Linked DNA regions of Homo sapiens: all the other regions are reported to be linked to region 5. The links are microRNA targets in miRTarBase. Many come from high-throughput screens and were not tested one by one. Region 5 holds a microRNA gene; each other region holds the end of a gene's coding sequence.
What was found. Region 5 holds the annotated microRNA hsa-miR-466 (AUACACAUACACGCAACACACAU, at 2,032-2,054, shown strand). A microRNA usually pairs through its seed, bases 2 to 8, with sites in the 3' UTR of a target mRNA and lowers its output. Matches are read on the target gene's strand: a 7mer-m8 pairs with bases 2 to 8, a 7mer-A1 pairs with bases 2 to 7 and ends in A, and an 8mer does both.

Region 1: the mRNA of ZDHHC17 is a reported target of hsa-miR-466. Seed matches in the 3' UTR shown: 7mer-m8 at 1,537-1,543, 7mer-m8 at 2,806-2,812 and 8mer at 3,590-3,597.
Region 2: miRTarBase lists COPS8 as a target of hsa-miR-466. The part of its 3' UTR that is shown has no 7-base or 8-base seed match.
Region 3: miRTarBase lists MUC15 as a target of hsa-miR-466. Seed matches in the 3' UTR shown: 7mer-A1 at 1,681-1,687.
Region 4: miRTarBase lists SPRING1 as a target of hsa-miR-466. Seed matches in the 3' UTR shown: 7mer-A1 at 4,969-4,975.

The regions. Positions count from the first base shown.
Region 1 is chr12:76,849,554-76,855,856 of GRCh38, forward strand. ZDHHC17 (zDHHC palmitoyltransferase 17) reads left to right here. Exons shown (of 17, transcript NM_015336.4): 17 at 1,294-4,143. The coding sequence ends at 1,432. Among named protein-coding and RNA genes, the nearest start is that of CSRP2, 26 kb to the right of the region's middle.
Region 2 is chr2:237,097,282-237,103,584 of GRCh38, reverse strand. COPS8 (COP9 signalosome subunit 8) reads right to left here. Exons shown (of 8, transcript NM_006710.5): 8 at 3,111-5,922. The coding sequence ends at 5,843. Among named protein-coding and RNA genes, the nearest start is that of COPS8, 15 kb to the right of the region's middle.
Region 3 is chr11:26,555,406-26,561,520 of GRCh38, reverse strand. MUC15 (mucin 15, cell surface associated) reads left to right here. Exons shown (of 5, transcript NM_001135091.2): 5 at 296-2,489. The coding sequence ends at 456. ANO3 (anoctamin 3) reads right to left here. Exons shown (of 27, transcript NM_031418.4): 14 at 1,742-1,802. Among named protein-coding and RNA genes, the nearest start is that of MUC15, 14 kb to the left of the region's middle.
Region 4 is chr12:116,712,436-116,718,725 of GRCh38, reverse strand. SPRING1 (SREBF pathway regulator in golgi 1) reads left to right here. Exons shown (of 5, transcript NM_024738.4): 5 at 833-6,290. The coding sequence ends at 916. Among named protein-coding and RNA genes, the nearest start is that of SPRING1, 22 kb to the left of the region's middle. RefSeq lists enhancers at 475-1,004, 1,005-1,534.
Region 5 is chr3:31,157,465-31,163,767 of GRCh38, reverse strand. It overlaps MIR466 (microRNA 466), which reads left to right and starts at 1,981; the gene lies at 1,981-2,064.

The sequences.
Region 1 (6,303 bases), not on the chromosome of region 5:
AAAATAGCTTTTAAACCTTTTTAAGATTTCTGTAGAAATAGCATCAGTTCACCATAATAACAACAAAACAGAATTCATCACATTAACTGTATATAATAAAGTTGTGATATCTCCTTATATTTTTTTCTTTTTAATTTTAAATTTGTATTCAGTCTGGTGCTTAGAAATAGTAGGGTCCTAAGTATATGAAATATTTAAAACTTTGAGTTTTACTGAAGTTATTACCAACTCTTCAGCTTTTGTGGTGCTGTCAATTATGGCATACTTCTGGAAAGCAAGCAGACCTTTAAATAAAAACAGAGTTAGTTGGGTAGTTTTGAGAATTCTCCCATAGGTACAAAAATTATATAAGGCACAAAACTGACTGCTTTTCTTTTCTTTTTTTTAGACAGAGTCTTGCTCTGTCACCCAGGCTGGAGTGCAGTGGCATGATCTCGGCTCACTGCTACCTCCACCTCCTGGGTTTAAGCACTTCTCTGCCTCAGCCTCCTGAGTAGCTGGGATTACAGGCATGCACCACGCCCAGCTAGTTTTTGTATTTTTAGTAGAGATGGGGTTTCACCATCTTGGCCAGGCTGGTCCTGAACTCCTGACCTCATGATCCACCCGCCTCGGCCTCCCAAAGTGCTAGGATTACTTACCGACGTGAACCACTGGTGCGCACCTGGCCAAAACTGACTGCTTTTCTAAAGGTGTTACTGGAGTACTAAAATTTCATGAACTTATCCTTGACATTTCTTTTTTAAGTTGTTATCCTTAGGTTCACTGCCAGATTCATGCTATTTATAATTATTTTGTCTTTTACTTTTTTTCTGTTTTAGAGATAGTTTGTCTCCTGCCAAAGAGCCACTAATTAAAGGTTTTTATCAAAAATTACATATGGAGCCAGGCATGTTGGTGCATGTCTGTAGTCCTAGCTACTTGGGAGGCTGAGGTGAGAGGATTGCTTGAGCCCAGAGTTCGAGGCCAGGCCGGGCAACATAGTTAAGACCTCATCTCTAAAAATAAAAATAAAAATGCATATAACACAGAAAGTATATGCACATTTGAATAAATTTAAAATATAATTGTGTAAGTCTTTAAATTGGCAAAAGAAAAAATCATTGTTGGCAGAGCAGTGGAGAAACATGAAGGCATATATATTTTATAGAGTTATGAATTGGTTCCTTCTTGCAAGTAACCTGAGTTTTTAAGTTTAGAAAAAAATATATTTAACACGAAAATTATATTGAATTCATGTATTAAATCATTTGTACTGACTGACGTGTTTTCTTTTTGGGGTGCTGTTTTTAGCCATGGATGTGTAAGAAATATTATAGACTTCTTTGAATTTCGATGCTGTGGCCTCTTTCGTCCTGTTATCGTGGACTGGACCAGGCAGTATACAATAGAATATGACCAAATATCAGGATCTGGGTACCAGCTGGTGTAGCGACATCTTATCCTATGAAGCATATTGCTGAGTGGTGCCTGAAAATTGTGTCTGTCCGTGTCTTTCTCACACTCGAATCCACATCCTTTGAACAAGAGCATGCTATGTGTAGGGCTAATGGTGAATTTTACAGTCTTTTTTTCAACACTTTTATTAACAAAAGTAAACATGGACAGAACACACTGCCATTTCTGGGAAGAGTAAAGATGATAAAAAATAATTTTAATGGTTCTTAATGTGGAAATTCACAACATACTCAACTTTTGGGTTTTGTTCTCACAGTATTTTTCACAAAAAAAGGGTAAACTTATTCTATTGACAGACATGGTGTACTGATCAGAAATGTTCAGTTTTAACTAAAACTAAATTTATGTTATTTGGCTAAATGTTATGATGCAGTCTAGTACGAGTATTGCATCTAATTCCAGGAGCATTGTTTTAAGTTGATTGACTAGTTATTATGTACATTTCAGAATGTACACATAAATACTGTGATGAAAATCATGTGATTGGGATCTACTGTGATGTTGTCTTCAAAGGCAGGAGAAAATAATGTTCACAATAAAATGTGCTAACAATGTTTTGTTTCTATCAGCTGTTGCAATGCTGATATATTTCTAGTTCAGTGAAATAATTTGTAGTAACCTTACTCTGAGGTTTTACGGTCTGATAATGAAGCACTTGCATGAGTATAGTAAGTCATGTTTTTTTGTTCAAATTTAAAAGCCCTGCTAATTGCATGACACACCACATAGAATGTATACTAGCAGATACTATCCAGTGAAGCATAAATTAGAATTTAATTTGATGTTCAAAAACAGTTCCATTTTTAAGGGTTAAGGTGGTATTTTCAAGAAAAGGCAGAACAAATAATGCAAAATTCTCAGTAATAGTGATACATGGATATACTTCCTTTTAAATTCTCAGCTGCAAAATAATTGTAGACAAAATAATGGCATTTAACTAAAGATGGAGCATGATCTAAGTACATAGCACATGTGAATAAAAGAAAAGCTGACAGTATATTCTGGTTTCAATAAAATGACCTATCAGAAAGTAGAATTTCATCCCCAAGAGTATTTCAGTTTATCCAATATTGAGTAAGTTCTGAAACAGTTTTAGAAAAAATTTTCTTTTTGTTAAATGTGATGCACTGATCAATTTTTGTCACAGCATTTTCATACCTTCATGGTGGACTACTAGTCACTGCTTCCATAAATATTGTTTACAGGGTGAGATTTGGTTTATTCATCTTAAGTGCTGTAGCAAACTGTGGTTCGAGCAACCTGTGGGAAATCTGTGAGAGGGAATGGGGTGGGAGATGTGGGGGAATGGTGGTCAGACTGATGACAGATCCTAGACCAATGTAAAGAATGTGTATCTGTATATAAATAATTTATCAAATAGTTTTCTCTTTGTGTCTGTGTTAGTGTTTTTAAAGCTGCTCATTTCATTTTGTCCAACCAAAAAGAAAAGGGAGATAACTAATGAGCTTCTAGTGATGTTCAAAATTGCTGTTAATAGGCATTATACCCTGCAAGTTCACTGCATGTCTGATGCTTGGTAAAACTAGTCTTCCCTGTAAAATGCAGATTACAGGTATTAAAGCAATCTAGTGGTATACCCGCCCCTTGCCTTAGTAAGAGGAGCAGTGAAATGTATATAGTTGATGTTCAGTATTTCCAAGTACCATTTTTATATAGTAGCTTATTTGACCATAAGTCACACATCAAAAAAAGATTACCCTTAGTGTATGTGTTTTAATATTAGAAAATTGGCATATGTACTTTATTTTTGAAAAGGGAAGAGATGGGTGTGGGGTGGCAATAGCATTGTGCCATTTTGTCATAGAATGTAAAAATTGGTTAACTTTACAAATGTCAGCTAGTTTTGACTACTAATTGGGGGAAATTTTAGATAATTTTTAAATTCAAAGTTATTTATAAAATGCTAGAATTTGTTTTAATTTTTTGTATTTTGAGCCACTTCACATGAAGACTCAGTTGCATTTTTATCGAATACATTTTTATCAACAGTTAAAGACTATGGTGGTTTTTTCAGAGTTTGGCTAAGAATGTTGTTACCATCTTCTTTGTTTGTGGTACAATATTTTCAGTGCAAAAGAGATGTCATTCAGTTAAAAAGACAAACCTCTAGATGTGTAATTACATGGAAAATACTAGCAATGTGAATGCTTTTGTAGTAACCATCTTGTAGTACCTGTGAAATCTATAACTCAGAAATGGTCAGATGGTCAGGAGCCAGCTATGCAGCAGTATACCATCTGTTTAATTATTTTGTAGGTCCTGTGTGTGGAACCAACTATAAACCCAGTTCTAAAGTTGTGTATGATGGTGAACCTTTGGGAATAGTTCTTATCAACTTAATTGGATACTTTTAGCAAATAGGAACTTAATTCTCAGCACTGAACATGAATTACTTCCTTGGAGTTTTTTTTCATTCATATTTTTGTTGTTTCCAGGAATTTATTTGATATTAATGGGCGTAAAACAGCATCATTGTACTTAAGCTATGGATGTTTTTATTTTATATTTTCTTTATTTATAACTGTGCCAAGTATTATTTTGCTACTTACCGTGTTATTCTGTGGAAAGAAAAACCTGTAAAGTGTTTAATAAATTAGCCCTCCTTACATAAATTAAATGTCAAAATTTTGTAAAATATTAATCAGAATAAATACTGACTCTTAAGTGTGTGCTTATGATTTCACTCAATTTACTTCAGGAAATTGATGAAATGATAGTGGTACCTATGATATGAAAAGATTATACATTTATATCCTGGTTAACTAGGAGTCAAGTGGCATAAGACTGTAGGAATTTGGAAAAATAAAAGATGGTGTTAGTATTCTAAAAAAAAAAAAAAATTTCCAATCCTGTGTGTATGCATGTGTGTGTGTGTGTAATTTTTTTTTAAATAAAGATAATAAATTTTTTAAGAATTTTTGAATTCCATGTAGTTAATTAGGATCCTCAGGGACTGTATGAATCTCCAAGTTTTAAATATGTCTAAAGATACTAAAGAAAAATATTGCAAAATGTACTATATAAAGAAAAATACTGCAGAATGAAACCTACCAAACGTTGATCTCAGTTACTTGAGAAGATATGCGTGGCAGAGAGAACTTCTTTATTTGGGACTTTAAAAGGCAAAAATTATTAAGGAACTGTTTCCTGTTGTTCCAGTGGTTGTTAATGGTTTGAGAACCCAGTGGTATTAAACAGGAATATTTTCAAATTGGACTAATACTCTATCCATAATTTTAGTCTGGAGTTCAAGTAACAATATCTTGAACAACTGTATAAAGTAAAGCCGCTAGTTTTCATTCCACCCAAGTATTTTCCTCCTCATTGTCTACTTTTTATCTCTCCTAGTCCTTGCTAGATTGATGTATCATACCTGATATGGATGTCTGAGTCTAGGAGTTTTTAGACATAATTGGAAACAAGTGGTATATACCAGGACAGAAAATCTTAACATCTTGTCAGAAAGTAAAGTGCTTGTTATCAGAGTTTTCTATTAAATATATTTATGTGACTTAAAATAGAAAAAGTAGATTGAGCATTCAGAATATTCTTTGGTCTGTGTCAGCTAAGTCAGAAACTCAAGGAAACCAGGTATGCCTCTTAGAAAACTCTTGCCTTTGAATTGGATATGAATGTTTTACCCAGGTAAATTTTTGCTAAAACTGTCACTCATTTACTAGGACTGACAAATATTTTTAATAGATGGCAATGTTTTTAGATTGTTTCCATTCAAAGCATCAGAAAGTCCCATTGTTGCTGCTGCTGCTTGGATCTGTAGGTTTACAGTTTTCATCAAAATTTGGAAGATTTTCAGTTACTCTTTCTTCAATTATTTTTCCTCCCCTCCTTTCAGGAAACTCCCATTTCACATGTGTTAGGCCACTTGAGATTGTCTTCCAACTCATTGATCGATCCTCCATTGGCTTTTAAGATTCTTTTTCCCAGTGTTTGTTTTAGATAGTTTGTCTTTAAGTTGACTATTGTTGTTTTTTTTTTTTTTTTTTTGCAATGTGTAGTCAATATCATTCAGTTTATTTTCATCTCATTTTGTTTTCACCTACAATGTTTGATTTGGACCTTTTAAAGTATCTTCAATATCTTAACTTTTTGAAAACATGTAGTTCTAATAACTGTTTTAATGTCCTTACCTGCTAACGTTTACATTTGCCAGTTCTGAGTTAGTTTTGATATTTTTTTCCTCATTCTTGCGTGCCTGGTAATTTTTTATTGGATGCCAAACACTATGAATTGGGTGCCTGATATTTTTGTGTTTCTATAAACTCTTGAGCTTTATTCAGGATGCAGTTAAGTTACTTGGAAACTTTGATCCTTTGAGGTCTTGCTTTTAAGATTTGTTAGGCAAGACCAAAGCATTGCTCTTACCTCAGTAAGAGCCTTCTCTGTACTCTATCCAAAACCGCAAGGAGTCATGTTTCCCAGTCTTGGTGGTGGAACAGGCACTATTCCTATTCCATGTGCGCACCAGACACTGTTTGCTCCACGTCTTTTGGATGGCTCTTTCCCTGGCCTTAGTCACCTAACATGCATGTTCTATCAGAATTCAGCTGAAGACGTGCATGGTGGGGTAGTGTTCTGTATAATCCTAAAGTTTGCTCTCTCTAATCCTCTCCAGTCCTGCAAACTCTAGCCACCTGGATCTCCCTGGACTCTTAGCTCTGTCTTAACTTATGGTGGCTTCTAGCTCTACCTGTGTTCTTCTTCTTTGTACTACAGCCTAGAAGCTCAAAGCAGTAAGCTTTGGTAGTTGCTAAGACTGATCTCATTTTTCCCCCCATAAATTGCCTTTGTTGCCTATAATGTGCA
Region 2 (6,303 bases), not on the chromosome of region 5:
TTGACCTCCCAAGCTCAAGCGATCCGCCTGCCTCAGCCTCTCAAGTAGCAAGGACCACAGACATGCACCACCATGCCCAGCTGACTTTTTAAAATTATACTTTTGTAGAGACAGGGGTCTATGTTGCCCAGGATGGTCTTGAATTCCTGGGCTCGAGCGATCTTCCTGCCTCAGCCTCACAAAGTGCTGGGATTACAGGTGTGAGCCACTATGCCCAGACAACTACATAATTCCTAAGCAGTTAGAGATTTCCTAGTAATCTCTATGGCTTTATTGATTTCTAGCTTAATCCCACTGTTTTCAGAGAATGCACTCATTTTGATTTCTACTCTTTGTAATGTATTAGGGCTTTATGGTCCTTTATGTGTTCAATTTTGGTAAATGGTTTATACAGCATAAAATGAAATTATATTTTGTCATTGTTGGTTAGTGTTTTATGTATCCCAATTAGATCAAGTCTGTCACCTTTGCTATGTTCTTTGTGATATTGTCTGTTCATGCCATCAGCTAATGAGAGGTGTATTATGTCTTCCAGTATGATTATAGATGACTCTTTTCTCCTTTTAGTTCGGTAAACTTCCACTTGATTATATTTTGAATATAAAATTAGAATTGCTACATATTCCTGTTGCCTTTTGGACTGATCTCTGTAGAATAACGGACATCCAAAAATGTCTATATTTGAATCCGTAGAATCTCAGGTTATATGGGAAAAGGAAATTAAGATAGCAGACAGAACTAGATTGCTAATCAGCTCACCTCAAAATAGACTGAGTATCCTGAGTTTCCAGGTGGGCCCAATATAATTACAAGGGTCCTTCAAAGTGGAAAAAAGGAGGCAGAAGAGAGAACCAGAGATCGAGCAGTGTGAAAATAACTCTACCCAATGTTGCTGGCTTTGAAGGTGGAGAAAGAGGGGCATGAGCCAAGAAATGCGGGCGGCCTCTAGAAGCTGGAAAGGGCAAGGTAACAGCTTGTCCCCTAGAGCCTACAGAAAAATATGCAGCCCTATTGACATAAGCCCAGTGAGACCCATTTCAGATTTGTGGACTGCAGAACTGTAAGATAATACATCTGTGTTGTTTTAAGCCATTAAGTTTGCAGTAATTTGTTACAGAAGGAAACTATATGCAATCTTTTTCATTAAAAATTACTTTCTATCTCTAATAATGCTTCTTGCCTTGAGGTCTACTTTGCCTAATACAATCACCCTTCGATATTCACAGGGGATATACTTGGCTTCAAGACTGCCAAGTATACAAAATCTGTAGATCAGAGTCCTTTATATAACATAGTATTTGCAAATAACCTATACACATTCTCTCGTATACTTTAGATTTAATACCTAATACAATGCAATGTATAATTGTTATGCTGTATTTTTTTAGAAAAATTTCAAATATTTTTGAGCCACAGTTGATTGAATCACAGATGTAGAACCCACAGATATGGAGGGCCAACTCTTACTATCAAAGGTGCACCAACTTTCTTTTGGTTAGTATTTGCAATGGTATATCTTTTTCCAACTTTTAAATGTAAGAACACAGAAATATTAAAAGAGGATCTTTTGTATATAGCAGTTAGGATTTTATTTTTCTTTCAACATGTTAAAAATGCCATTTCACTGTCTGGCTTTACCACTACTTCTTTGAAGATAATGTCCCCCCGGGTCCTCCCTCTGTGCTTTTAATATATTCTCTTTGTCTCTGGTTTTCAGTAGTTTTACTACTGTTGTCTGGGTGTGGTTTTCTTTGCATTTATCCTCTGTGGGGGTTTTCTGAGCTTTTTGAATCTGTGGATTGATTTCTTTCATCACTTTCAGAAAATTCTGGGCTGGTACTTCTATTTTTCCACTCTATATTCTCGCTCTTCCTTGGATTCCAATTAGATAAATGGTAGATCGCTATGCTGTGTACCACATGTCTCCAACACAATTGCCAGTTAAGTTCCACTGTTTCATTTCTGTACTTCAGCTTAATATTTTATATTGACCTGTCTTCCAGGAGCAGTTTTACTAATATTCTACTTCTGGTTTATATTTATAAGCAAACACCTTCCCCCACCCAACAACCTTGTTTAATGGAGCGCTGACATAGCAAAACTCCAGGAAAACGGAACTGTTTCTCAAAGGTTTTTGACTTGCTTTTTGGTCTCCTACCCTAGGCAGCTTAAAAGTTCACCAAATGTTTTGAAGGGTAAACAGTGTGGTTTAGCCCTCTCAAGTCTCCATTGTTATCACCCCAGCCCTTTCAAAGTGCCCAAATTCCACAGGTTGTTAGGTTATTCAGCAGCAGGCCCCTCACCAGGCAAAGCTTGAATCTTGCTGTGCCCTGTGGAATCAGCAAACACCTGCCACCGACCCTGCAAAGAGCTGCTGCAGATGACCTCATTGCAGTACTCTCAAATCTTAGCTCCACATTCCTCATTGATTTAGGGGCTGATGCCTCTCAAGGGATAAATGTGGGTATTCACCTATTAGTTATTGACACAATTCTGAGTTGGCCTCAAGGTACTTCAACCCAGGAACAGACATTTTCATACTTACTACCACCCCCTGACTTTTTGTCATTTATTTTTCAAGCAAACTCACTAATCCTGTTAAATTTCCCACATTCTGGAACTGGCTGTTTCTTAGTGGGATGTTTAACTTGTTCCATTAATTCTCACATTTTATGTAAAGTAGCAGATCTAAACCTTTAAATATATATATATGTACATGTATATATGTATATATTTATATACTATATATATGCATATACGTATTATATATATATATATATATATATACACATATATATATATACTTATATATATAAAATTAAATTCAGGTGCTTTCAGTCTGATTCATGTGTTACACACTTCCCTTTGATTTGACTAGGTCCCCGATCCCCGCCCCAAGGCAGAATAGCATAGGTATGTAAAGATATGTAGACAGATCACTTCTATTGATCTCCGGGAACAAGAGACAGGGAACCAGGAAAAGTAAAACAAGGAATGAGGAAAAAACAATTGAAGGCTGCATTAGAGAGCTTATGACCATGGGACACCACAGCTCAATTTTTTGGGGGTTCTTTTTGAGGATCTAGGTATAGAACACATTGGAAATAGTCTGCCCTGAGACAAGGAAGAGAGTGTTTATTCACCATGTCATGTTCACAACTGCTGATGGGCTGCCCAATCAGGTTTGTGTGGGCATCCTGATAGTAGTGCCAGGGTAAGTCCCAGAGCAAATTTTAGAGATATCCAATGGATCTGAAACAGGGTGCTGTCAGGCTACACTTGTACACAGATGGCTGGCTCAGAAATAGCCAGAGCACAAAGACAGGCTGATGGATGTACTGGACATATTTCATGCTCAATCTCAATTTCTTACCCTGTGGTCTCAACAGCATTGATATATATTTCCATGATCCCTTCTTTGTTTCATTAAGGGCTGCAAGTACCGTTTTTCTAACTTTTATCTTTATTCGGTGGAATTTTCCAGCATGAGCTTTTTGACTACCCTACAGGTTCGATTTTGTTGCTTTAGAGATTGGCAGCATATCAATTTGTCCTGAGAACTGATAATAAAGGGAAGTGAAATCAAGCACTTACCCTGCCTTTCTTGTACAGTGATGAGGTTATTAAGAGTTAAAAACAGACACATATACAAATATTTCATGCTCAAACTGTCTCATTTTTACATGGCCTGTAGAAATCCCTTCAAGTTGGCTTGTATAACCCTTTGACAGAATCCCAAGTCTTTAAGAGCCTCCTTGAATCCTGGACATCTTGTACCAGATATGAACTTGTACACTTACTGCCCTGGAACTATTAGCTGTTTTGCAAATAAGTTCTGATTCCTTTTAATTGCAAATGAAAATGAAAGAACACCATCTGGGTACTAGTGGTGCTCATTGTTACTGAACTGTAATTACTCTAGACCTTTTCATGTAGACAGGAGTGGGAAATATTTACTGTTTACAAAGAAAAATAAAGCATATAATGAGGTTTCCATGTCAAATTTAAGATTACTGGGGTCTAATGTTACATGATTATTAATTTAATCTATACTTTTAATAATAAAAAAGATATCAAGATTTTGTGAAATTAATCATGAAAAACCACATTCATTAGTCTAAGATTTTTTTCTGTCCTTAGTGTATATCCCACTGACAATGTAAAATTGAAATATTGTGTTTGATCACTTGAGATTATTTTTTCTCTATGTAGTAGTTCACTGTCCTCTCCTTCCTCTTTAGGGAACTATTATATTCATTTTGTATATATCCCCCAATTGCTTAGTTTTGAAATATAAGGAAATATGTACATATATATAATTGTAATCATTCTCCTTTTGTTACCCTCAAAATAACCATATAAACTACATGTGCTTTCTATGTTCTCACTCTGGAGATCATTCCAGTTTAGTATAGAGATCTTCACTCCTTTTACACCTGCGTAGTCTACACTGCTGTTTATTCAAACAATCCCCTATTAATGAATATTTGGATTGACTCTAATCTGCTTTTAAAAAATAACCATGGATACAATTTGTACTTAATACCTGGAAGTTAAAAAAACTGGCACTGTCATTCTCTTGATCACTCTCCTGATCCTCTGACTTCTTGAATTCCCATTTCCTCAACTGTAAAACAAGGAATTTTAATATGACTTACCTATCCGGGTTAAATAAAATTGCAATTCAAAAAGTATTCCCATATATGTTAAGAAAAACTGAAATAGCCACTAAAATGCATTCAAAATAAATAAATTATATAATTATCACTACACAGATTCACCATACAACTCATTTCTACTTAAGAGATTCATATAGACACAATGACAAAATAGATTGTGTCCACAGAAAGATCGAGAGTGAAATTTCCAGAAACTATCTTAGATGAAATAATTGAAGAATTCAGTTAAATATTTATTGAACAAATGCAGAGTAAATGAACTAAGGGCTGTTATAACCTTAAGTTACAACAAACAACTTCAAATATTCAGAGGGCTGTCACACAGAGAATGAAAGACTTGCTCAGTATTTCTCCAAAGGGCAGAACTTGAGCCAAGCGATAAATATAAGCAACCAATGGGCTGCAGGATAGTTGTACAAAGTGTATCATGTATCTTCATAGCTTCTTTGCCCATATAATGCATTCCACACTTAAGTTTCTCCTTCTAAAAGGCGACAGCACAAGTTAATATGTCTCATAAATGTCTTAAATAAGTTGCATTTTCATGGCAAGCCCTCCACTGCCAGCAATGGATATACTCACACTATTGGAAAAAATCTAAAGTTAACAAACTGGTTTAGTATGGAAATGGTCTATTTGTTCCTCAGCTATGTTTCTGTATCTTACATTAGTGGCTCTCAGGAGGTGGGGGGTGAAAAGAGAGCATGTTCTCCAAAGAGGGTGAATCATAATCCCCAGTGATTCAGATACTGTGCCTGGGGACAATCTTTCTTCAAGTCCAAATGAATCATTATAATTATCAACCAATGGTACATATAAGAGTACGGCATGTGCTGGGACAGAGAAAAGACAGTTGACAAACACTATTCTACATGAAACAGGAAATCTTATTTTATGAGTCACTAGAAAACTAACTGTAATACTGACAGGCTCCATCCAGATTATTAAATACTACAAAATGAGAACTGTTTCAACAACTATTCAGCATAACGTTTATGGACAAAATGTATATAGTATATCTTATATTCTATATGTATTTTATCACATAGTAAGGAATGCTGAGGTGCTTAAGCCATCCAATAAATTGAAAATACAAACTTTACATTTCTACGTTTGTCAGTATACAGGATTCTGAAGATGAATCTTGAACTCAGAGTGATAAATCAGTTTTCAAGGAAAGCCACATAATCCGTCAGTCTGGCTAACTGCTGTTCATTGGGTATTGGGGGAACTGGAGCAGGCTCTGTATGTTAAAGAAACAAACACACTTCATGTTACATACCACAGTAACAAAGCTTTGGCCCCAACACCTACCTCCCCTAATGCCTTCAATTTTTAACAGTAAGTTAACTTTCTTAGATTTGTCCTGGTTTTAGACAAAATCTTACATCATAGAGGCTTGGACATTTTTGAAAAGCAAGCCAAGAAGTTGCAACTTTTATGAGTATGGTTTTACCTAACTGCTAGTAAAGGCATGTCTCATGTTGTTGTTACTGAAGTATTCTATGTAAAGGTTAAAGACACTTTTATCATGCAACATGTCTTTTAAAAGATCACAGCTCTTCTTGAAAACATCCTTACCCATGCAACATTAAATTCAAGAAATAGAGTGCTTCCCATGCCC
Region 3 (6,115 bases), not on the chromosome of region 5:
GGTCTACACTTCTTTATGCAAGGTATTGATATACTATACTGGTCTCTTCTTTAGTTCCTTTACTTTGAGTCCATCAACAGTAAAATTTTGGAAGTAAAACTGTACTCTTAGTCTTATAAAAAATGAAGCTTGAAAAACATCTACTTATTTAAAATTTTAAAACTAAAATCTAAAAAGCCCATATAAAAATATATTTATTTTCTCATCTAGAATAATTCCTATAACTTGGTGGATGCCTGAACATGAATCTTTCAGAGTATCACTGTGAAACAGTATTATTTTGTTACTTTTTTAGTTCTGCGATTAGACAATGCACCGGAACCTTATGATGTGAGTTTTGGGAATTCTAGCTACTACAATCCAACTTTGAATGATTCAGCCATGCCAGAAAGTGAAGAAAATGCACGTGATGGCATTCCTATGGATGACATACCTCCACTTCGTACTTCTGTATAGAACTAACAGCAAAAAGGCGTTAAACAGCAAGTGTCATCTACATCCTAGCCTTTTGACAAATTCATCTTTCAAAAGGTTACACAAAATTACTGTCACGTGGATTTTGTCAAGGAGAATCATAAAAGCAGGAGACCAGTAGCAGAAATGTAGACAGGATGTATCATCCAAAGGTTTTCTTTCTTACAATTTTTGGCCATCCTGAGGCATTTACTAAGTAGCCTTAATTTGTATTTTAGTAGTATTTTCTTAGTAGAAAATATTTGTGGAATCAGATAAAACTAAAAGATTTCACCATTACAGCCCTGCCTCATAACTAAATAATAAAAATTATTCCACCAAAAAATTCTAAAACAATGAAGATGACTCTTTACTGCTCTGCCTGAAGCCCTAGTACCATAATTCAAGATTGCATTTTCTTAAATGAAAATTGAAAGGGTGCTTTTTAAAGAAAATTTGACTTAAAGCTAAAAAGAGGACATAGCCCAGAGTTTCTGTTATTGGGAAATTGAGGCAATAGAAATGACAGACCTGTATTCTAGTACGTTATAATTTTCTAGATCAGCACACACATGATCAGCCCACTGAGTTATGAAGCTGACAATGACTGCATTCAACGGGGCCATGGCAGGAAAGCTGACCCTACCCAGGAAAGTAATAGCTTCTTTAAAAGTCTTCAAAGGTTTTGGGAATTTTAACTTGTCTTAATATATCTTAGGCTTCAATTATTTGGGTGCCTTAAAAACTCAATGAGAATCATGGTAAAAAAAAAAAGTTAACCAAAGAATATACCTGTACATAATTTGTACAGTTTTAAGTTGTTAGATAGGAACTGGATTTCTTATGTATTAGACATTATTGCTCAATCATAATGGAATAGATTCTGCATCCCTAAATGTATGAACCATAAGGTTAAAAAAGATGAATGGAAATATCAAACAACTTTTTACTGAGCATCAGTTTCATAATCAATAATATAAGAAGATTAATTTGGATTCTAGTATGTTTCAGTTTGTTTTTAATTACCACCTTCCTTTGGTAGAAAAAATATGTTCCTTGATGTAGGAAAGTCTAGGTTTTAGAGATTAGAGGATGAGATCAAGAGTTAAATTCCTAAAGAAGCACTGAATATATGAAGAGAGCAAACAAATCAAGTACCAACCTAGAGGCTTTATTTTTGAATTGATTCATGGTGTGTGTGTGTGTGTGTGTGTGTGTGTGTGTGTGTGTGTAACACAGAAACAGCTTCAGAAAATAAGGGATAGAAAGTAATGAAGAAAGTACTTACCCCATATTGCCATAAAAATAGCAAAGAAGACTGTCCCTCCATTATCGAACAAATATGTCACCTGAGTAGAAAACAAACAGAAATATTAGTCATGCAAATTGATTATAATAAGCCAGTGAATACTGTTTGCACTCAGGTACTATGATTTTTTCTCAAATAGAATCATATTATTTTATAGTACAGAAATATTATATATGAATTCCTTTCATGGGTCTTGCAACAATTTCACATGATTTTTCTCATGGGGAGAGGTGAAGAAACAACATTAGCCCTCTTCTCTCCTCTCTTGATTCCCTTTATACCCCACCATCATTTCTGATTATAAATAATTCTACCATTCTATGGAAGTATTTGTGGGTCACAGATTGTCAAACTACTTAATGAAAGTTGTATGAAATTAGTTTTTCAGGTGAGGCATTCCTAGTTGCAATTCCTGTTAGCAAAACTTCTAGGAGTGGGGAAGTTGGAAAATGCAGGATTCTTCCAGTGAGCCAGCATTTCCCATAGCTAACCCTATTCTCTTAGTCTTTCAAAATGTAGAATGGGTCCAATAATGGCTATAAGATGTAATAAATCCCATCTTAATTTGTTTTAAAAGTTTCATAAATCACTGAACACTTATGAAACAAAGTGTTTTTTAATCAGATATCAACTGAAACTTCATAAAGGATGCATAGTTTTATAATGTTATTGAATCAAATTTTAAGGCTTGTATTGTTTGATTTTAATAAAGTATAAATTCAATTTACCTTTGCTTGTTTGCATTTGCATAATGCCCTCAGTATATATGTAACTTAGTGAGAGAAATTAAACTAACACAGTGAAGGCAAAAAATGTCTGGCCAGCACAAAAATTCCATAGAAACGATAGAGAAAATAGGGCATTGTCCTCACAGGAGGGTGAGGACAATCATGGGTTAAAGAACAGTATTATAAGGAAAGTTGGAATGGAATGGTGTCCTCCTTGTTCAATCTGACATCCAGAGGGTGCTCAATGGGAGCATTAAAACAACAGTAATACGTATTTCAGTTGTAACATCTGGAACACACTGCAAAATATATGTAAAGCAAGTCATCATAAAATGTATTTTCCTATAATGTGGCATTATTGATAATATCATCATAGAAAAGATGCGCTCCCTTTGAAGGTTGGTGGATAGGTGCAAAATGTCCCATATGGCTCTAAAATTCATTGTTGGTTAAGGCACGGTATTTCTAAAAATTAATATAAAAATCGGTTTTCAAAACAATCATCAGTGTACATTTATATCAGGAGAGAAAAGGATCATAAAGAAATTCTCCCACAGAGCTCATAAAATTATACCCAGCAGGGAGTCAAGAATTTTTGTTTCTCAAGACGTCCCACAGAGACACCTGAGGCTGCTGAACAGCTGAACAGCTGTCTGTTTTCCTTTGTAAACCAACATCATACAGGAAACAGTCTCTTAGAGTGTTAGAACAGACTTTACACATGGGGATTTAAAGGTCACCAAGAAATAATGGCCCTTCCCCGCTCTAGAAATAACCATGCTTTTAGAAAAGTGGCAAATAAAAAGCCATCCTTAGTAGCAATTGTGTTGCATGAACTTATCATAGTTTGTGTAGTATTTTCCTTTAAAGTGCTTCTCATTTTTTTTCTTACTAGGTTTGCTAACAAATCTTTCAGGCATTTTAAGTCAATAAATTTAAACATTAATAGTTTAGGAACATCTTCCTGAGATAAAGTTGGAGTACATGTAATATTCTTGTAATGTGGGATTATATACATCTAATGGGAGATAAAGCTAGAAGGAGCATTAGAGAAGACTTCAGAACTTGCTCTAAGGAAGAGTACGACAGTGTTTAATCATGTGTTAGATTTACCAAGCTATTACACATGGGATGTATTATGACGTGGGAGATCATAGAGACAACAAGAACAGTTCGAGGTCTGTGGTTATAGCTTGAGATGTTCAGGGCTTTATTTAGGGTGCTGACATATGAGCTGCTGAATGAAAATGGGAAAAAGAATGAAGGAAGAGTCAAGCTTACTGTGAATGGCTCAAGCTTAGATCATGGGTGATTGACAGAAGAATTAAGTGATAACTGGCCTTCTGTCTAATAGGACAAGAGCACTTGTTATACTGAAGAAACTCCAGATGAAATATTGAGAAAATTCCATAAGCAGCATAGCAGATTTTTCTAAAAGCAAAAAGAATCTTGTCCTACACATATAATTAAATATGTAATACATTAAATTATTTTATTAGAAAAACAGCTTGCCTTTATGAATAGAGGGACCCATGGCAAGCATTTTGTTCAACTTTTTTTTTTTTTTTTTGAGACAGAGTCTCGCTCTGTTGCCCAGGCTGGAGAGCAGTGGTGTGATCTCGGCTCACTGTAAGCTCTGTTTCCTGGGTTCACGCCATTCTCCTGCCTCAGCCTCCCGAGTAGCTGGGACTACAGGCGCCCGCCACCACGCCCGGCTAATTTTTTGTATTTTTAGTAGAGACAGGGTTTCACTGTCTTAGCCAGGATGGTCTCGATCTCCTGAGCTCGTGATCCGCCCGCCTCGGCCTCCCAAAGTGCTGGGATTACTGGTGTGAGCCACCGCGCCTGGCTTGTTCAACATTGTTAAGATGACTAGGCATAATATATAAAGAAGGTAGCAAACTTAGCCTAAAAGCTTGATTTAAGTACAAATTGTCCATTTTCTTTGACACCTGATTTCTCTTGAAGAACTGAGTGTGACTACAAATCAAAAAATGTGGGTACTGTTAAAGAGATATATATCTGATTAGGTTGGAAGCTGAAAGTCTATGTTTTCTCCATGATACCTGCTGGGTCTTGTTCTAAAGTTGCTTTATAGGTTCAGAAAAACATAAGGCTCTGAAAAATGCCACTTATATCCCACTAAAGTCTCTCCAGGATAAGGAGAACAAGGTGCCTCCTTGGCAGATTCAACCATGTATGCAGAGCTATTACTGGAGACTTGGAGGGCAGGGAGTCAGAATTGAAGCTGAAGGTCACTCCCTTTCACTTCCTCATTCCTTACCTCTTGGGCAGGGTAAAACCTGAATAACCATTTTATTTGCTGGACCTGGGCAGAAGCTACATAAAAAATGCAGTCTTGATTAGACTATTCTCCACGTATCTTTTAAAAAATTTGGTCCTAGAAATTAGAGTCACCTGAGGAACTTGTTAACATAGAGAGTTTGAGGCCTCACCCTTGACCAATTGATTCTAAATTTCAGGATACGGGGTCCAGAAATCTGCTTTTTTAACAAATGTTCTAGATGATCTGATGTACAGTCTTATACAGACTCCTTTTTTTTTTTCATGAAGTTTCTTGAAAAGAACAGCTTCTCTCCTACTTCTGTTGTAACCTCAAATCAGTATACAGTCTGAGGTTCATACTGGGTATTGAGTACATGTTTGTTAAACAAGTTTTTTTTTAAAGAGAAAATTATTATGAGTAAGACTTAACTTCAAGGGGTTGAGTCATTTTTCAATTATATGAAAAACAATTTAGGACCTCTATCTAATTATTTCACCTTAAATGAGAATTCCTAGCATCACAGGGTTTGATAATGTAGTGTCAGTGCATTTAAATGTGTGCAAATATCACTAAATTACTTAATTGCAAAAATATCCTAATTCCAATACTTTTAAGTACTAAAATAAAAGTAGTCATGAAAGGAAACATTAATGTACTTAAATATTAATTTTTATCATATGATAGGACCAGTTATTTTCCATGCAAACATATCACTGAAATTATAAAGGGAATAATTATATGTACACACATGGCCTTTTCAATATAATATGGAAAATTTAATTTATTTTTCTTTGTCACAAGCAGTAATGGATTCTGTAAGGAACTGAATTGAGAAGTCCCTAGATCATGTGTCCAGATGATTTTGTTTCTAGATGATCCTAGATTGGTTGGCTTGTACCTTTGGCAAAAATCTGCTCCCTTATATCTGATTCTACCCATCAATAAATTATTAGCTATTTAAATTCAAAAATATATAGTAAAATAGACTGTTGATTTCCATCCAATAAGGGAAGAGGAACTCTTATTTTTAAAGTATAAAACAAGTAGCTACATTTTATCTTAGTCAGAGGAACAAATAAAAGACATTTCATCCTAGTGGGTTGTATTTCTTGTATTCTTCCATAAGGCAATATTCTCCTTTGCAAGCTAACTTTTCCACCTTCCTTATACATGTTATTAAGTGAATTCTTTGTGAGTCATCCCTGTCCTTAAATGTACCTTTCTCTGTTCAGAAAAGAAGAGATGTATTTACTGCATGATGACAAAAGCAACCTAGATGTAGTGTTTCCTTGGACGGCTTCCTTACTTTATCACTCTGCCATATGTGGATATTTCTTG
Region 4 (6,290 bases), not on the chromosome of region 5:
GAAGTATTTTCTTTCCTTCACTGATAAAACCCAGGAATTATTTCCAGTCTTCAGTGAAGCTACTATACTTTAGGACTTGGTCTTTTTTACCATAAAAAGATTTCCCAATTGCCATTTGATTTGTTTTGATAAAAGTATCCCAAGAAAGAGAAGACTTGGCTATATGTCTGTTAAATTGGATGAATATTTACAAGTTTGTTGCTTAGCATTGGTCTTGGACTAATTAATGAATTCTAGACTAGCCAAAAACCCAAGTTGCTTGTATGAAAACAAATTGCTGAAAAATTAGCCATCAGGAATGATTGTCTGCTTTAAATCACACTTCCAATTTGCTTAGCCAAATGAGGCTTGCATGGTATTGTAGGATTTGGCTCATGCCCCAAATTTTTAGGTACATAAACTTTATGAAAGCAATTTAAAGTGCATCTCCTTAGTGTCTCTGCAGGGTTCCTTACGGGAACTGAGTGAAGCTCAGGATCAGGTGCAAAACACCCATTGGATCTTAGACTGTTTCAAGTAATTTGAGGAAAAGTAGTTGTCTTGAGTCACCAGGTCACAGCAAAGTTATTTAAAAACTCACTGGTGTACATAAAAAGAAACAGTCCCACAGCGATGTTATGTCTGTGTTCATGCTCTTCATTGGCATTCTGGGTTGAGCATTCTTCTTTGTTCCAGAAAGTGCCCTGGAGCCTTTAGTGACATTTGGAGATGGACTCGGCCAGCCCCCTGCAGGGAGAGTCTGACAGTCCCGATCCACTCTCACTCTTCCGAGAGGGAGGTGTGTGAAGCTGTGCTCGCTCTCACTGCGCTCTTATTTTCCTTTTGCCAACAGAGCGTGCAGCATGAGAACACCTACCGGGACCCCATAGCAAAGTATTGCTATGGAGAAAGCCCGCCCGAGCTCTTCCCCGCTTGACGGGTGCAGCGGACTTGCTCCAGCCTGGGTGAGGAGGCCCCGCTGAAGAACTCGCCTCCTGGGACCCAGCTTCAGCCATCGGGCCAGGCTGCAGGAAGAAGACAAAGGCAGCGTGAGGAAACCTTGGCTTTGACCCCTTCTCGTGTTGTCATCTTTGGCTTCGCTCACCACCCGGGCTTACCAGATGGAACTCTTCTGTAAAGCAGCTTGGCCCCTCCAGCCAGTCCCATTCGGGAAAGATGAAACCGGAGGCCGGGCTCACGGTGGTGGTGGAGTTCTTGGATGACTCAGCCCTGGGACCTGCACAGGGACCTGTGACTTGTGTTCATCGGGGGCCGGTGTCACTTCCAGTTTTGATCCAGGCTCTTTCACTGTAAAATTATTTATTGGATTCCTTTGGAGTAATGGGAACATTCTAATGTTTTATGTAGGAAAATGCCTTGCCATTCTAGTTGAATATGTTCAAGGAAATTATTTTTGTTGTTGTTCTGTGTTCTCGAGTTTCAGGAGTTAAATCATTCTTCCACCCAGATACAACATTTTCTCTTTTAGGACGTGAATATTCTCTCTAGGCAGTTATTTTTGTTTGTATTTCGACAGTATCAAGCATAGGCCCTGAACGTGACCTGTTAGCCATATCCTGACGTGTAAAATTATCTAAAAACTCAGACACTCTTCCATTCTAATCTAACTGCACGATTTCTAACAGTGGGCACCATGTGCCTGCCCTCAGGTTATTTTCCAGTGGTAGTCGAATGTGCTCATATACCCTATGGAGAGCACTGTTTTAGCAGAAATCTAATTTCTCTTCCTGGAGGAATTTGTTCTCATTTCTTTTGCCACTTAAAATTAACTGTGGGCTACTCAGCCAGGGTACAGTGGGAGCCTCAGGAAGGTCAGAGGCAACCTCCTCCCCTGTTCTATCAATAGAAACCCAACGTTGAGGCAATTCCTAAACAGACGCACCTCGTAGCTTGCTGTATGTGTTTATTCTTTATTGCTTTCAGCTTTGGGGCTGTAACAGGTACAAATATTTGGTTTCCCTATGATTTATAGAGAAGAAGAAGAAACCCAGCTTTCTATCAGAGCACTGCAAGAGAAGAGTCTTACACCTGCCCTCAGTGGGAGATGAGAATGGTCATTATGACTTAGAGAATGCTACACGTGTAGGTTGCTGGTGTGTCCTGAATCCACAGGCATAAAGCACTCCCCATTTTTCCTACTGTAATGCAGATTCTCCGGCTCAAGGTCTAGAATATTTGATCCTAAGATCAAGACATCATGCCCTTCGAATAGTACTGCTCTTTGTTTTCAGGAGTCACGTGAACACACAACTCTCCTATATTCCTCACGAACCTCAGGATTGAGCAAGGTCTTTGTAATTTTTTTGGTTCACTTTATTGACCTGGGAGCAAGGTGCTAATTCTGTGGTCAGTATTCAATGTTTTTTTCAGTGGAGCTTTTTCTTTGGGCCATATTTGCCTTCTAATACATTCCTGCAATATGTAGTGGTGATTTCCCTTAGCTTCCTCCTACTACCTCTTATACTCATCTCCCCAAATTATTTGCCTCCCTTAAATAAGTTTTCCTAGAAGGTAAGCTGGTCAGGCAATTTGAAAAATATTAGATCCCAAGAAATCTATTCCGTTTGCATTGGACTTCTCGGATTCCATGTGTTTGCAGCAGGACTACATCGAACTCTGATGTGCCGGATTGTGGCATGTCTGCATGTCTCATCCATCTATTGTTTTTGGTAACTCAGTTTGGAATTTCAGTGTCTGTCTTCCCTGGGTTGACATTGGAATCAGCCTCTCCTTTGAGCTTATTTTAACTCTTGAGCAACATAACATAGATTTAATGTGAACAGTTTATACCAAAGGGCAGCCTGTGCCTGTTTATGGATCCTCTCTGCCTTTGTACTTGAAGAGCGCATTTTACATTTCCAGTCCTTTCACAGACAGGAGCTCCAACCTTACGATGGAGAATTAAACTTGCTTGTATTTCCACTTTGTGGATGAGGAACTATGAGAGGTGGAGTGACTTCCTGGGTCCCCGCTGAGACTTAGTGACAGATCCCAGACAAGAACTTCATCTCTGACTCCAGGTCTAGTCCTCTTCCCCCTGTCTCTTGCCAACTCCAGCCCTGACACCGTGGGCGTCTCCCCTGAGAGCAGATATATTTCAATTGTCCAGGCCAAAAGAGGGGCGAGGCGGCATAAACACCCAAATTAGGTGGAGGATCCAAAAGTCATTTTCATTTGGCTGTGGAATATGTTTTTTGTATTTCAATCAGCTAGGGGTGTGTTCACTGTTTTTGGAAATTCACAGCGCTTGAGCCTCCATAATGAAGCTGGGCTGCAGAGCACCTGGCACGTGCTCCAGGCTCCCAGCTCCCAACCTAGGACCTCTCCCTGCCCTCCACTCTGGTTGGTTTGTGGTTCCCTCGACCGAGGGTTTCTAGAATCAGGGACCTTGTCTAAGTTTTGTTTGCCCAGAGCCCAGCGAAGTGTGTGATACACCTTGGGAGTTTAGGAGATCACAAAAGGGATGAAAACACCTTTAGAAAACATTTCATTGGTGGGGCGTGGTGGCTTATGCCTGTAATCCCAGCACTTTGGAAGGCTGAGGCAGGTGGATCACCTGAAGGCAGGAGTTCAGACCAGCCTGACCAATATGGTGAAACCCCATCTATACTAAAAATACAAAAATTAGCCGGGTGTGGGGGCGTGTGCCTGTTTTTGTGAGACTCTGTCTCAAAAAAAAGAAAAAAATATTGTTAATAAGTGAGTGTTTTCGGCTCAAGGGAATTGAGTCATACGTTGCATCTCCCCCAGTTCTGCATCTTATTTGCTGCGCTTGCTGGAGTTGTAAAGATTGGTCCTAACAGGGAAAGAAGCACACAAGAGACTGTGAAAAGGGCTCTGAGACAAGCAAGGACAAAAGAGGGAGGGAAATACCTTCCACAGGGCCTGGGATCTGGCAATGCTAGAGCCTTTTTTTTTTTTTTTTTTTTTTGCGATGGAGTCTTGCTCTGTTGCTCAGGCTGGAGTGCAATGGCGTGATCTCAGCTCACTGCAACCTCCCCCTCCTGGGTTCAAGCAATTCTCCTGCCTCAGCCTCCTGAGTAGCTGGGATCACAGGCGTACACCACCACACCCAGCTAAGTTTTTGTACTTTTAGTAGAGACGGGGTTTCACCATGTTGGCCAGGCTGGTCACGGACTCCTGACCTCAGATGATCTGCCCGCCTGAGCCTCCGAAAGTGCTGGGATTACAGGCGTGAGCCACTGCGCCCGGCATGGAGCTGCTATTGATGGGTGAGCTCCACAGCTTTTGCAGAAGCAGAGGATATGACTTGAGAGCAGTGCTGTCACCTCTCAGCATGTCCCCAAGCCCAACTGGGGCCTCCTGGAGATGCCTCAGTCGGCACTGGCCCCAAGGGAATCGTGGGGAACAGTTGCACAATTTGCAAGTTTCTGAGTGCAGCTTTTCCCATCCTTGGGATCAGCAGATAAGTTGTAAACACAGGGAGGTACTGCTTATTGGATATACTTTTCATAAGTAGGACAGAATTCTTTTGGGACTCTAGAGTTGGGAACTACCACTTACTAGCGGCGTGGCTGAGGCAGTCTTCCTCCTCTGTGGCTCAGGCCCTTCATCTGTGAAATGGGGTCACAGCATCTGCCTCTCAGGGTCACTGTGAGGTGTCGATGTGAGCAAGGCCTGAGGCTTGGCAAGAAGTCAATGTCTGCAACTCAGCAGGGAGCAATGGCAGGGGCAGTCAGGGGTCGGCTCGGATAGGGGTGGGTGGGCTCCTGAGGTTGGAAGGGTAGGAATTACAGAGCTCTTGTTACTATTGTTGTTACTGTTTTTAAAGATACGATATTTCAGATAATTCAGGAGCACGTAAGGATGAAACTTAGGATAACCTAAAATCACACAACCTAGAGAGAAGCGCATTTTTGTCTTCCCCCATTTTCTAGGCAAAAATGAAAGTACTTTGTCCTCTTGAAAAACAATTCTCTAATGAATATCCTATGTTACATAGAGGCCTGTGTAATGCATTTGTGTGGCCACATGGTGTCAATTTCATGAATATACAATAATATTATTAATTCCCTGCTGAGGACATTAACTGGTTTCCAAGGCTGCTTGTTGTTTTTGCTACTACAAATAATGCATTGATGATAAATACTTTTACATACATGGTTGTATGTTTATCTGAACTATTTTCACCAATATATTCACCTAGTGTGTATGGAAGTGTCCATTTTTGTCATACCCCTGGTAACCCTGTGATATTATTTTTAAACATTTTGCTAATGGATCTCTGTTCTTGTTTGAATGTATTTAATTTCCAGCAGAATGAGCCCCATTCCTTATTTTGATTGGCCATTTATCATGTACATATGGTGAAATGCCTATTCGTGACTTAGCCAATGTTGTTTCTTTTTCTTACTGATTACTACAGTACATTTTTATATGAAAGCAGCCTTTGTCCCCTTCTCTTGTTTTTCAGCCCTGTGTTAGAAACAACTAAGCTCACATATTCACAAACCAACTTTTCCAGTTCATCTAGGGCAGTGGTGCTCAACAGGGGCAATTTTGCCCCCCAGGGAACATTTGGCAATGTCTGGAGACATTTTTGTCACAGGTGGGGAGGAGGGCAGTACTGTGGGCACTCGTGGAGGGAGGCCAGGGATGGTGCCCAACAGCCCCCACGACACAGAATTACCTGGCTGGAAGTGGGAGCCGGGTGGAGGGAGGGAAGCCCTGCTCTGGGGTCATATCTCCCCGTTAGATTGAACAGAGGAGCTCCTGGTAGCTGAGTGCTGACTTCATTATTTTTCCCCGCCCTTGCTTTCTACCCTGCTGAAGTGCTGCTGATTAAATTACCCTGAAATCCCCACAGGACACATTACTTCCTCACAGGTCTCTACTAGCCCAGCGCTGCCTCAAGGAATGGCATTATTCCTTTGCCACTGTGTCCTCACCGCACTCTTGGACTCCGCCGAATGCAGACACCCTCCTGTCTGCAGAAGGATCTGGAGGGGTAGAACGCTTCCCCTCTACGACGGATTGACTCCCCAGCACCTCACCAGCAGTTCTTTGAATGGAGTGGCTTTGGAGGTGGGAGTTGAGGAAGAAATGTGAGCCTGTCATTACAGGTTCTGTTTAGAAAACTAGTCATTCTACTAAAAAGGTATCACATAAGTAAGTAGGAGCAATAAAAACAAAGAAGATAGTGGGACTCCGAGAAGCTTTCCCCGCCTCTGGCCTGTTAGTCTATCGTTCGTTGGGCAAGGCTCTTCCAGTGTGTGACCTTTTGCGTGTTATCACAGCATGAGTGCAGTTTTGTGTACAGGCATCCCTAT
Region 5 (6,303 bases):
ATTCATTTTGTCCACACCCTGAACCCACTCTCCTCTACTGGGCCATGAATTCTTTTAACGACTACTTAGAATTTTTAAATATTTGTACCATTCAAGGATTTTTATAGTCTTCAAATATCTTTTGTTTTCCATTCTGTTTTTCATAATGAAAAACAAAAACTCAGACCTTAATTTTCATTTAACTAAGTTAAGGTGTATTATCTGAGGTTCCTCAGACAACAGTAAGAGATAATAGACAGGAATTAATGACCCCATTCTTGCATTAGTAGCAAGTAGCATTTTAAACTCTTTGGTTGGTTTCTAGGATGTTGGTTTTACATGTGAAACTTGGATGAATGAGCAATAAAAAGAGAATACTTGAAATGTGTATTTCCTGGCTTCTGTGTTGTCGACATTTGGAATGGTGGTTTATTTCCCACAACCCAATTTTAATATATGTTTTATTCCGTGCATCATTTTGTAAACATAGTAGAGGCCCACCACATGGCAATTTGATTGGCATGGTTGAATCTAGTGCTCGTGTCCTGAGGCTTCTGAGCTAGTGTGGAGGGAGGAGTCCTTTGTAACATGTCTCTGATCAAATTATGCTTTCTCTTTAATTTGTTTACAACTCAACAGCACCTTGGAAGCAGCTAGGTAATTTAGATGGCAGGCATAATTTCATATTTCTTAGGTTTATATTCAGGGCCAACTAAAATAAGGCCTTTATTTCCTCTAATTCATTGTAAAATAAGGAGGTCTTGGGTGGGTGTGGTGGCTCATGCCTGTAATCCCAGCACTTTGGGAGGCTGAGGCGGGTGGATCACGAGGTCAGGAGTTCAAGATCAGCCTGGCCAAGATGTTGAAACCCCATCTCTACTAAAAATATAACAATTAGCCGGGTGTGGTGGGGGGAGCCTGTAATCCCAGCTACTTGGGAGGCTGAGGCAGAGAATTGCTTGAACCCAGGAGGCAGAGGTTGTAGTGAGCTGAGATTGCGCCATTGCACTCCAGCCTGGGCAACAAGAGCGAGACTCCATCTCAAAAAAAAAAAAAAGAAAGAAAGAAAGAAAGAAAGGAGGTCTCTGGATCAGAATCTTCCTTTTCAGGATCCTCTGCAAAGGAAATTCCACTGGGGAGGTAGGTACAGCAGCAGTTCCTGACTTTGATATTAGAGTTGTAGAAGCATGAAAAAAATCTCCCTACCCTAAGCATTTTACTCAAGTCATCTTATTCCTCCAATTCTGATATTTCCTACAGCAATTTCCTCAGTATTTACCATCTTGTAATATATGGATTTTTCCAAGCTGACCTTTTGGAAATGAGATGTGATGTAAATAAGTGTACAACTGTATTAAATATATCTTAAAGAAACATGACTTGTGCTTATCTACTTTTCCATTTCTATCATCTGAGGACCGCCCTGAGATCCACTAAGATAGAGTTGTGTTTGGTTGGGATGGGTAATTGTAGAGAAAGGCAGAATAAGCACCAGGGAAGATGAGAGAAGTCAACAATGCCTGGAATTAAGGAAAGGAAAAGGAAGGAGAAATGGGGAAGGGGCAATGAGGAGGATGAGATTTAGAGAAAACCCCTTTTGTTTCTACAGGCTTCCCTGCCATCTCTCCATTCCACATTCATGCCCACAGTTTGTTTTGTGAGTGTGTGTGTGTGTGTGTGTGTGTGTGTACTGGAAGGCATGGGGTAATGAAAACATATTGGCTTAGCTCTGTGACTAACAAGAAAAGTGGTCACTGGTTAAGTTAATGTCTTTGGGCTCTGTGTTCTCATTTGTAAAATAAGGAAAGTGTTGCTTCTAATTCTGAACTTTTGACTCTGATGCAGTTTCTCACTGTGTTCTCTCAAGTTCAACCAGAAAATGAAATGAATCTGAAATCCCTTCAAGTTGTTAAAAATTTGCATATATGTATAACATATGTATTAAGTATACAAAACTTTAAATGTACAACTTTATGAACTTTTATATGTGTATATTTGTATGTGTGTGTATATGTGTGTTGCATGTGTGTATATGTGTGTATATATGTACACATACACATACACGCAACACACATATATACATGCACACACCCACGTAATGGCACCTAGATCAAGATACAGAACATTTACAACACCACAGCCTTGCCTATTCTCAGTCTGTTTTTTAACTTCGTATTGATATTCACGGTCATAATTCACAAATGGAATCATCATACCTTATGTCTTCCTTTAGGTCTGGTCTTTTTTGCTCTTTATTGTACTTCTAAAATTTATCTATGTTGTTCTATTTAGCAATCATTTATCCTTTTTCTTGCTGAGTAGTATTCTGCTACCCATAATATACCATTGTTTATCCACTTTATTGTTGATGAACAATTGGGTTGTTTCTAATTTTTGTCTATTTTGAATGAAGCTTCTATGAACATTCTTGTCAAAGTCTTCTGGTGGACATATGTACTCATTTATTTAGGGTATATACTCAGGAGTAGAATTACTGGGACATGGTTTTACATTTAGTTATAGGAAGAGCTACCAAATAGTTTTCCAATGTGATTGTGCCAATTGACACTCACTAATGATCAGAGTTCCCTTTGTTCCACATTCTCACTAGCACTTGGTATTCTTTTATTCGATGTAAAGACTATTTTTTATTTGGTCCTTCATTCACTTTTATTAAGAAAAAATATTAATTGAGTGCTTATGTTATAGCAGGCCCTGTGCTATGGAGAGGTTATTGTTCTTACTGTCATAAACCTAATGTTTGAGTTAGGGGCCCACAGACTTGTTCAACTATACTTGAACAACACAGACTTCTGCGATCCATTATATGCACATGTACAATACAAAATTTTTTTAGGTACTGTATGTTGGAGAGGGAACTTCTGCCTGAATTCTAATTTGGTAATACACTGCAGGGAGGAGCATCTACCTTTTTGTCCATTCTTCCATTCTGCTTCCTGGCTCCGTTGCAAAGGAGAAGTTGTAGATCTGGCTGGTTAAAGCCTAAAGCATTCACTAAGAAGCATCACTGGTGCAATTTCCAGGCTTCAAATGGCTTGCAGCTCTTTTCTGAAATCTTTCTTTCACTGTCTGTCTTCTACATAGAAGGTGCGGCCACAACTTTCAGAAGATCAGAGAAGGCGTATGTGAGGAGGAAAGAATTTAGCTGGGTCTTGAATGATGAGTATACCCACTGGATGAAGAAGTTGGGTATAAGTATTCTGGTTAGAGAAAAAGAAAAGATAAAGACAAAATTGTGACTTCCAGGGACTGTTGGTGATCTGGTTAGGTTGGAGTGTAGGATTTGAGACAGGTATAGTAAGTAAGGTATGTGGCCACAGAGGTAGAAAATGGATAAATCTCCAGTAGTCTTTTATGATATGCAAAGAATGTTCCCTGTTGGTGGTGAGGCTACTGTGGGGATTAACCAAGATAGTGATATTATGGCATTTTCTATATTAGAACATTTTTTGTATTATTAAAATATGTCCTACATTCTGAAAAATAAAGCTGAAAATGCTAAGTAATATGTGTCCTATTTCTAACAATTGTGGAGTAGATTCAACACTATTCAGTTGTTACACAGAAAAGTGCTATTTGAAAATGTTGATTACTGAGTCCTCTAATTATCAGCATCCTACTGAGTAGTGGGCTTGTTAATACCTCAAGAGTAAGGGCTATGTCTCTAGCCTCTTACATCTTATAAATTGAAGACATTTCAGAGTAATCTTAAGTCCAATGTTCTCATTTTACTTATAGAGATTGATGCTTATTTATTGTATCTCCAGCATCTCCAGTTCAGACTGCCCAATTCTCTGGATGCACTCCAGGGTTTGTGCATCCTGGCATTGTGACAGGTTGGGCTAGATCATGGCAGATGGATAAGAAAGCTAAGCATATCTGAAAGTCAACATCTGGGGTAAAAGTGAACTGAAAAATAACATAGACTATCCCAATAGAGGGTCAGTTTAAAACAGTTGTGCAAGGAGTCAAGGTCCAGGTCAGAAGTAACGAGACAGAACTAGAGACCTCAAGGCAGGATGGGGCTGATTCTGAGACATCTATGGAGGTATGAAACACTGAAACCAGAGTCTTGTTATAGAGGAATGTTGGTTATGGTCATAATCATTGATGGGAAGAAAGTCCTGAAGTATACGGCATCAGTTATTTTTTTTAATAGGTAAACATTACTTGATTGCCATGAGGATGGCTAAAGTCCAATCTTGGTATGCCAAAAAAAAAAAAAAAATGCTGGACTGAATTAAATCAGCTGATACACTGTGTTGCAACTGAAACCAATAACTGTAAGGAGTTGCATATGAGCTAGGATATCCTGTTGCAAGGAACAGAAAATTTAATTTCAATTGACCTTTTCAGTGAAAGAGATTTATTACTTTAGGAACCTGAGCATGCAGAGGCAATAACGCGTCCATGATTGGTTGATCCAGCAGTTTGAGGGTAGCACTATGGATTTAGTTTCTTTCCATCTCCCTTCTATGGCTCTCACGGTGTCATTTTCCTCCTAAGTCTGGTTGCCCTCATGGCTTTAAGATGGCTGTCATAGGCATTGGGATAATACGGTTTCTGTTCAATGCTGGCAGGGTACAGCGGGTTTATGGCCCAGCTTTCTGAGCAAGAGTCCTACAATCAACCTTGATTGGCTTGCACAGGTCACAGGCCCACCCTTGAACTCATGCTTGAGTAAAACCAACCAGGGACCACTATTGGAGTGAGGGGGAAGTTTGAGCTTATTCTGAAATAATATGGGATGCATGGAGAGAGGTAGCTATTCAAATAATATCTGGGGGCTATTAAAAGAAAGACATGAAATGTATTGGGTGGGTAACCAACTGTGTCAATTATAAGCAAGAATACTTGACATAAACTGAACTTCTGGATGCCACTTGCCGAGAATCTAGACCCCCAGCACTAGGGTTACTAATTCAGTATCTCTGCATTTGAGTGCATTTCCCCTATTTATGTGACAATAAAACACTTTTGGGAACCACAAGAATGCATGACTTTAGAAAAATTTTTAAAATTTTCCATGAATTCTTTTCCTTTATAACAATACTATTAGTACATGTTTATAACCTAAAATTTAGAAAATACAGAAAAATGAAGAGGACCATTTGAAATATTTTTCTTTCTTCCATGGGAAATGCGTGTATTTCCTAAAGAGGGATGGTATTGCATTTGTTAAGTGGAAGTACTGAGCATGAGCTTTGAAAAATCTATTATGCTCCTTTCTGATGAATGCTTTACATTTCATTAGAATTCCTCTACATCTTCAGAGCAATTTTGGGATACTTGCCAGCAGTTAATGGTCTCTCTGTACTATTAACACACAGGGACAGAGGAGCTTTGTCATGTCATCACCAAGACTGGCTTTATGGAGAAAGTCATTAATCAAGGCAAGCAGGGCATTTTGCAAATATCCAGGCCTGGCGAATCCAACCACCTCAACTGAGGAAACTTGTACCTGGAAGAATCTAAATGTGACTCAGCCCTCCCTGGAAATGACTGAGCTTCAGCCTGAAGGACTTCGTTACCTGAGGGAAATCCTTATGGATCAGGCTTGAATTATTTTTATTTACATGCTTTGTTGAAGGTGAGCTTGTTTTCCTAAACTTGTATGCTCAGCTGTTCACCTGAACCCCTGGACTGGAGGGACTGTTGACACTCACAGTTCTCTGGATGGGTCACCACTTGCCCTGCCAGCACCGTGCTCTCACCTTGTTGGAAGGAAGTTTAAATAATACAGAGAAGATGTCATAGAGGTGATGAGTTTTAAATGAGCATATTATGATAACAAAAAATGTTCCAAATTTCTATAACCTTCAATGCCTCTCAAGAAAGATTTCTGGAAGTTGCTTTATAGTCCCTAGGAATGACAGTCACATAGCAGGATTGTTTCTTCTTCTTTTTATGCACTTTGTGCCAGGGATTCTTTTGAGAATCTTAGGAAACCTATGGATCCCCTTCCTAGCAAAATATATATACATACAATAATTTTAATGTAATTTTTGAACTATCCCTAGACAGGTTAACAGGGCCCAGATTGAGATATATGATAACTCCTCTCATGAATGGTTTAAAAACTGGACTCTTGAGTTAGGCCACTATAGTTTATTTATTTACCTGCTCTGATACTTGTGTGATCTTCAGCAAGCTGCTTAATTTCTCTGTTCCTCAGTTTCATTAGCTACAACATGGGAATAATATAAGAACTTACTTCCTAAAGCTATGGCGTGCAATAAATGAGATAATGATCTGATCTGCCACAGGGGTGCAGTGTTAAGTTCAGGGAGGAACTGTATTGTG